Homo sapiens: one gene and its partner. The protein of the gene in region 1 purifies or fractionates together with the protein of each later gene. This does not show direct contact. Each region holds a gene or a part of one and is shown on either strand. Other genes may lie near its edges.

The links.
Region 2: the proteins of CORO1C (region 1) and ACTR3 fractionate together in Homo sapiens (co-fractionation; one large-scale study listed by BioGRID). This does not show direct contact.

Annotation. Positions count from the first base shown.
Region 1 is NC_000012.12:108,724,599-108,728,840, forward strand, and holds part of CORO1C (coronin-1C), read right to left. Parts: intron 1-4,242. UniProt on the Homo sapiens protein: Plays a role in directed cell migration by regulating the activation and subcellular location of RAC1. Increases the presence of activated RAC1 at the leading edge of migrating cells.
Region 2 is NC_000002.12:113,931,522-113,935,461, reverse strand, and holds part of ACTR3 (actin-related protein 3), read right to left. Parts: intron 1,184-3,940; coding exon 1,076-1,183; intron 1-1,075. UniProt on the Homo sapiens protein: ATP-binding component of the Arp2/3 complex, a multiprotein complex that mediates actin polymerization upon stimulation by nucleation-promoting factor (NPF).

The DNA of each region.
Region 1 (4,242 bases):
AGGACCTCTGTACCTGAGCAATAATCTCCCAAATCTCCCAAAATAATATATCCTTTAAAAGATGGTGAGATACTGGTGCCAAATATAATCCATTATTCATAAATTTTTAAGAAGAAATGTAGATCATTGCCTGACCAAAGGGGAAAAAATATAACTGCCTTCCACATACAATGTATAGGCCTTCCTACTCCCATTTATAGTCTCTCTCACTCTGACCTTTGCATTATATTAATTACTCATTACTGCAGCAAACGGGAGGAACTGTATTTTTGTTATTAATGTAAGATCCAAATGACAGGCCTAATTTAACATACCATAAAACTATAGAGGCTCTTTTCCCACACAGGATGTTACACTTTATCACACTGTAACCAGAAGAGTTATCTCAAGCACTGCAGTGCAATCTCCTTCAAATCCTAAAAAAATCCATCTTTTGCCAGGAACTTTCCTTAAAATGGACAGACAGACACACAGACAGAGAGACTGAATACACAGACCTGAATAGAGAAGACTGTCTGAATAGACATTTCCAATTCAGACAGATGCAAAAACACTGGAGGTGTTTTTAAGACCGCCTTCCCATCCTAAAATTAGACATTTTTTGCCCTCTTCAGTGACTCAACTTTGATTCAAAGTCTAAAATCCTCAGGTGGGAGTAGGAATCCATACCCTTAATAGCTTAATGTCAGATGTAAAATGTATTAAACTTACTCTATTTGCTTCTCTGCAGTTCCATTCATTAACAGACATTTAAGAGAGAAGAGAGGGAACAGGAATGTATTCAGTACCTACTCTGTATTAGGCACTTCATATAATTTTCCTTGCTTAATCTTGCCAATGACCCTGCAAGGTAAGCCTTTTGCATCTCCACACTACAGAGGAGGAAAGTGAAGCTCAGGGAGGTGAGGGAGCTGGCAAAGTCACAGCTAGCAAGAAGCGGAGCCAAGAGTGAAGCCCAGCTCTATCTGGCCCTAAAGGCCTGCACCCTCACGGCCTCAGTTCCCCTAAATACAAAACTCTCTTAGAACGAGAACTACAGAAGGTACCCATAGCTCACTGTCCCTAACTAGACAAAAAAGTTGACATTTTTCTTTCTCTTCTGTACTACCTTGCCACAATCCAAGCTTTAACGAACACACAAAGAAAAGGTATCCCGAAATGGCCAACTGGTTTCTCCTAATTCTCAGAAAGGTGCTAAGTGAATTTATTTATTTATTTATTTATTTTTTTGAGACGGATTCTTTCTCTGCCGCCCAGGCTGGAGTGCAACTCTGTCGCCCAGGCTGGAGTGTGATGGCGCAGTCTAGGCTCCCTGCAGCCTCTGCCTCCCAGGTTTCAAGCAATTCCCCTGCTTCAGCCTCCTGAGTAGCTGGGACTACAGGCGCGTGCCACCACACCCGGCTAATTTTTGTATTTTTAGCAGAGACAGGTTGGCCGTGTTGGCCAGGCTGGTCTCAAACCCCTGACCTCGTGATCTGCCCGCCTCAGCTTCCCAAAGTGCTGGGATTACAGGTGTGAGCCACCACGCCCGGCATGAAATATTTTTAATTAAAGTATTTTAAAAATAAACATAATCTGGGAGGCCGAGGCGGGCGGATTATGAGGTCAGGAGATCGAGATCATCCTGGCTAACACAGTGAAATCCCATCTCTACTAAAAAATACCAAAAAATTAGCCGGGTGTAGTGGCGGGCGCCTGTAGTCCCAGCTACTTGGGAGGCTGAGGCGGGAGAACGGCGTGAACCTGGGAGGCAGAGCTTGCAGTGAGCTGAGATCGTGCCACTGCACTCCAGCACTCTAGCCTGGGCGACAGAGTGAGACTCTGTCTCAAAAAAAAAAAAAATGAACATAAGAACACAAAATATAACTAAAGAATACTAATTTGAGTCAGACACCCCAAGAGAGGAGAGCATGAACAAAAGAATGAAGAGGCTGGGCATGGTGCATCACGCCTATAATCCTAGCACTTTCGGAGGCTAAGGTAGGAGACTTGCTTGAGCCCAGGAGTTCAAGACCAGCCTATACAACATAGTGAGACCCCATCTCTACAAAACATTAAAAAAAAAAAAAAAGAATGAAAAGAAAGTACACACCCTTAAAATCCAATTTACAACCATTCTCATGAGTGTGACAGGGGTAGTTCCAGTACTAACTGACCAAATACTATCAGGGTCGGCCTGTATGCATTTGGTGTGACTAAATCGTGTTCGCTGGCCATCTACCCTACTGAGGAGACTGTGCGCCAGTCATTACTGTTCATCGGGGGAAAGAACCTGGACGAGAATGTTCTGCCATTGGGGAAATGTTTTAAACACTCAGTTTTACATTTGAGCACTTTTTGGTAAGAGCTGGACTTGGATGCCAGAAGGGCAAAAGGGAGTTACCCCATTCATGTTATTTTAACATAGGCAATAAAGACATTCATGATAATCAGAGAAACCCACTGACCTCAGGATCTTTCCAGTTAACTTCAATAAACAATCATTCATTCAGCGAATATCCAGTAGGCACTAATGACCAAGCCATGAACAAGAGAATCTCAGTCTGCCTTCCATGTGAATTGCTCTATTGCATTCTGCCTTGTATGGAAAGGCACCTTTCAGACTATTAGCTCAAATTCAGGTCCAGTTCTTTGTAGCAAACAGTCCTGATGAATGTACAATACATGAGGGCAGGGACAAATGTCTGCCTGTGAGATGAGGAAGTTTTCATGGAGGAAAAACCTCATGACCCATGTCCCAAAGGACAAGTGGGATTCTAGAAGTAGAAAGGCGATGAAGTAATAAATTCATCACAAGATTTGAAAGCTGGGATGTTTCAGGGAGTGGCACTAGAGATGAAGACATTGGAAGGGGAATAGTGAGAAATAAAGCAGGCTGAAATCAGAGCCCACCTTACTCCACACCTCATTAAGGAGTCTGAACTTTATTTTGTGGGTAAAGGTGAGGTCACCAGAGGATTTGAACAGGTGAATGGCATGTTCCCTGATGAATCCTTTTTCATCTATAGCATACCTTAAAATATATTAATTCAAACCTTTCCCCAGTCCTCTCACATTTGGGTTTCAACTTATATAACCAAAATATTGAGGAGGGTGTGGTTTAAGGTCTAATTTCTAACTAGTAAGACCCCACTATTCATAAATTGGAAATCATCAAAATTTAAAATCTTTGTTCCTAAAAAGGGGCACCATCAAGAAAATGAAAGGACATGTCAGAATCCAAGAAAATTTTTGCAAATCATACAGCTGATAAGGCACTTGAATCTAGAATACATGAACAACTTTTATAACACCAATAAAAAGACAACCCATTAAAAAACGGGCAGAGCATTTGAATGGACATTTCTCCAAAGATTACACATACAAATGTTCACCAACCACATGAAAAGATGCTCAACATCATTAGCCATTAGGGAAACACAGATGACTAGAATCAAAAAGTCAGAGAGTAACAAGTGTTGGCAAGAATGTGGAGAATTTAGAACCTTCATATACTCTTGGTGAATACCGTAAAATGGTGCAGCTGCTTTGGAGAAGTCTGGCCATTCCTCCAATAGTTAAATATAGAGTTACCATACAACCCATCGATTACATTCCTAGGTAAATACTCAGGAGAAATGAAAACGTATGTTCACAGCATTATTCATAATAGCCAAAAAGGAAAAACACCCAAATGTTCATCAACTGATGAATGGATAAACAAAATACGGCATATCCAAACAATGGAATATTATTTGACCATTAAAAAAAAAAAATGAAGTACTATACAATACTACCACACATATAAACCTTGAAAATATGCTAAATAAGGGCAAGACACAAAAGACCACATAGTGTATGATTCCATTTACATGAAACGGGAGGACTTCTAAGGGGTATGGGGTTTCTTTTTGGGGGGGATGAAAATGTTCTAAAATTGACTGTGGTGACAGCTGCACAACTCTGTGAATATACCAAAAACCACAGAACTGTACACTTTAAACGGGTGAACTGTACAGTATGTCTCAATGAAGCTGTTATAAAACAAAAAAAGTTCCATTCTGCACTCTAGAAATACAAAGTACTCAGAAAGGAGTACAGAATCTTGTTCACTCACTTTAAAGGATCTGAACTAGGGCAAAGAAAACCCAGAGAGATTCTATTACTTAACATTCTAGGTACTAGGTCATACTGAAATATTCATGAAGAATTCTGTTTTAATACAGAAAAGGTATCTTAAGTTTAAAAAGACATACAAGTGTC
Region 2 (3,940 bases), on another chromosome or scaffold:
CAGTGTTTAACTCCATTTACATAAAATGGCCAGGACAGGCAAATCTAACACAGACAAAAAGTAGATTCGTGGTTGCCAGGGGCTGAAGGAATCAAGGGGAAATGGGTGGTGACTGTTAATAGTTACAGGGTTCCTTTGTAGGGTGATGAAAATGTTCTAAAATTGTGGGGACGGATGGACTTTGTGAATATACTAAAAATCAATGAACTGTACACTCTAAAGAAGTGAATTGTATGGTATATGAATTTTATCTTAAGCTATCGTTAAACAATGGCAGTTATTACTAAAACCATTATGACATATCATGAGGGTGAAAGTGGTGGAGGACCAGGAGTCTAATCCAAAGGTAGTCACCCTGAGGATGTAATCTTTAACAGACATTGCCTGATGCATTAAACACTGGAGTGAGAATAAAAAAAAAAAAAAGTTCAAAATAATGTAAATCCTTAAGTGATATTCATTATAATATAAAAATTACTTTAAAAGATAAACCTTTCTCTATATACCCATTTAATAATAAACAGTATGAATTCTAGTAGTCATTTTGAATTCATTAGGCATAATTTTTTTAAAACTTGATGTATCATTAAGAACTGAAGCACAACGGCCTTGGAAGAAAAATGTTATTTCTGACAATCTAATTTGATGCATTTTTCTTAATATGCTTTATTAAGTACAAACCATAAAGCATCTACTAAAGTTCAGGTACTTAAAACTAACTGTTATACAGTTACCCTGTACACCAGTCTGAAATCTGTTAATTATGAATAAAAGAGGTCATCAAATGGCTAACACACATCCAACTGGAAAACAGAATGAAAGCCATTAATATACTTCCATTCCAGATATTGCAATTTGTAATTTTCTTAATTGCAGTACAAACCTACAGTAAAAGAAACATTTTGAATTGTTTATAAAAGTTTTAAACGGTGAGCAAAACATAGCTATAACTGGACAAATGGCCAAATTATAGTGCAGCATTTAAAGTTTTTTAAAAGTAACATTAATTCGTATAATTTAACTTTGCCAGATGTGTTATTTCATGTTCTGTTCAGTAACTGTAAAATAGCCTTACCACAGGAATGACATGAGTGACACCATCTCCACTGTCTATTACCGTACCGGTCAACGTCCGTTCTCCTACTTGTCTTGAGGTCCAAGATGCAGCTAAGGCAAGAACAGCCTTGAGCACAAAGAAAGAAGAAAGGCAAAAAAACAAAAAAAAAAAACAAAAAAACAAAGAGTTAATCGAAAAAAAAAAAACTAGTTCCCTGGAGTACTTTATTCAATTTTAAATGTAGTATCTGTGGAAAGAAAATACATAAAATTAATTTTGTATTATGCAATAAAATAGCTCACTCCCTACATTTTATTAAGACAAACTTAGAGGTTTACATTTGCTTTTAGGAGCATGATTTGTAAGATTTACATATTTTATAAAGGCTATTTCTGTCCTAAAGCTAAAAATGTGGAAGATTGCATTAAACAGTACAGAACTAACTGTCTGTAATCCCAGCACTTTGGGAGGCCGAGGCGGGCAGATCACGAGGTCAGGAGATCGAGACCTTCCTGGCTAACACGGGGAAACCCCGTCTCTACTAAAAAATACAAAAACTTAGCCAGGTGCGGTGGCGGGCGCCTGTAGTCCCAGCTACTCAGGAGGCTGAGGCAGGAGAATGGCGTGAACCCGGGAGGCGGAGCTTGCAATGAGCCGAGATCATGCCACTGTACTCCAGACTGAGCGACAGAGCAAGACTCCATCTCAAAAAAAAAAAAAAAAAAAATTGTATAGAACTAACTTGCCAGAACTTAAACTATGTCCACGTGGGCTGGCCTGTTACAAACTGCAATGTAAGGCAGAAAGTACACAACCACCCTACCTCCAGTTATTCAATACATATATGGCTATAAACAACTATTACTAAAAGATTACCTTCTTTTTCTTTTTTTCTTTGAGACAGAGTTTCTTTCTGTCACCCAGGCTGGAATGCAGTGGCACGATCTCGGCTCACCGCAATCTCCGCCTCTTGGGTTCAAGCAATTCTCTGCCTCAGCCTCCGGAGTAGCTGGGATTACAGGTGCCCACCACCACACCCGGCTAATTTTTGTATTTTCAGTAGAGACGGGGTTTCACCATCTCAGCCAGGCTGATCTTGAACTCCTGACCTTGTGATTCACCTGCCTCAGCCTGCCAAAGTGCTGGGATTATAGGCATGAGCCACTGTGCCAGGCCTACCTTCAAATTTTTTTAAGGTAACATGTGTTTAGGACTATATGACATACAGAAAACGCCATCGCACACCTCCAAATACTACTATGATTTAATTATGGAGCAACGTTGATAAAATTTTTCTATGAAAAACCTTGGTACAGACAATACAACACAATTCTTTTTTAAGTGTGAGAATTAAGAAATTAACATAGTTCATTTTTTAAAAAACTAAATTTCTTACAATCCAAGCCTCAAACAAAGTATATGACTAGTAATTAAAAACAACTAAACTTATACTGGACTTATTTTACCTACCTGGACTGTAATAGCTAAAAGGGACCTAGAAAGCTATCTAGGTCACCCTCCTATCTGAACACAAGATCATATTAACACAATCACCACATAATCACTATAGGCTAACAGAACTATACATTATTTTTTGACAATCTTAAAATGAAAAATTCCATCCTAATACTAGTTATATATATATATACTGTTTAGACTTCATTATGAGATATCCTTCCTCTATAAGTAAGTTCAAAACTATCATCTACAACCAAGAATTATCTCTGATCACTTTTACAAGTCTTTTGTAAACAGTTACGGTCCCAAACTAGAATAGATATGTATCAGCACATCATGTTACAGAAATGTTATTGACTACTGAACATCAACAAAACAGAACAGAGATTAAATAATGAAATTAAGAGCACTCAGAGGCCACTAAGGAAATCACTGAAAAACCAAATTACGACTCCAGAGGAATGAAACAAAGCTCATGATGCCAGTGTTTTAAAGTAAGCTTTACCTGACAATATGGTTAAACATAAGTTTATTATATTTAACATAGGATGAGAAGCAAAAACTCCCAAGTGAAAGATGAATTTTCCCAACTCCTCATTTTATTCATATTCTAAGAACTAAAAAAGGGCCTCCCACTCAAGACTGAATTCTTCTATAAAGTTCATGACAGGTTTAAGTGACTCCTTAAATATTTTTAGCAGCAGAGAATTTAAAAGGCAGTTCATTAAATTTATGGATTGCATTAAACATTAAAAAGTTCTTTGCTATCCAAGTTAAAATATTCATCCATAATTATCACTTATTGATTCTGTGTACCGTGGAGTTACAAAAACCAGTGTGATCCCAAGAAAGAGCAAAGTCAGACAGACCTCAGCTGCCTGGTATCACAGCTAACCATTTAATTATGAATAAAGTGCCTTCCAGCTTTAGTTTTCTTCCTCCACAAAAAACAGAAACAAAAATATCTACATTTAATAGAAATAATGAATTAATACACATATAAAGCATTTGTGTTATGTCAGGGATTACCTCTGCTACAAGGGAAAAAAAAAAAAAATGAGGTCAGCTCTGATCCTGAGGGGTGGGAGAGAAGCTGTTCCATACAGATAAACGTACAAATTAAGAGAAGTGAAATATTAGGGTGTCAAATATACCTAAAGATAAGTCAATCAAAAAAGACTACAATAAAGGACAAAAAGATTTATAAGGATAAATGATAAAGGATTATTTACAAGGATAAATATATATACAATGTTCTTGTCACAGAGAAAGCATTCCATAAATATTAGTTCCTTCATTTCTGTCCTATGAAAGCCCTTGAAATACCCAAACACCACTAACTTACTTTTTTAACACTTCTCTTTTCCTGACTAAATATCTCCACTTCCCATAATATTACTTCTAAATTAACAATTCAGGAGAGAA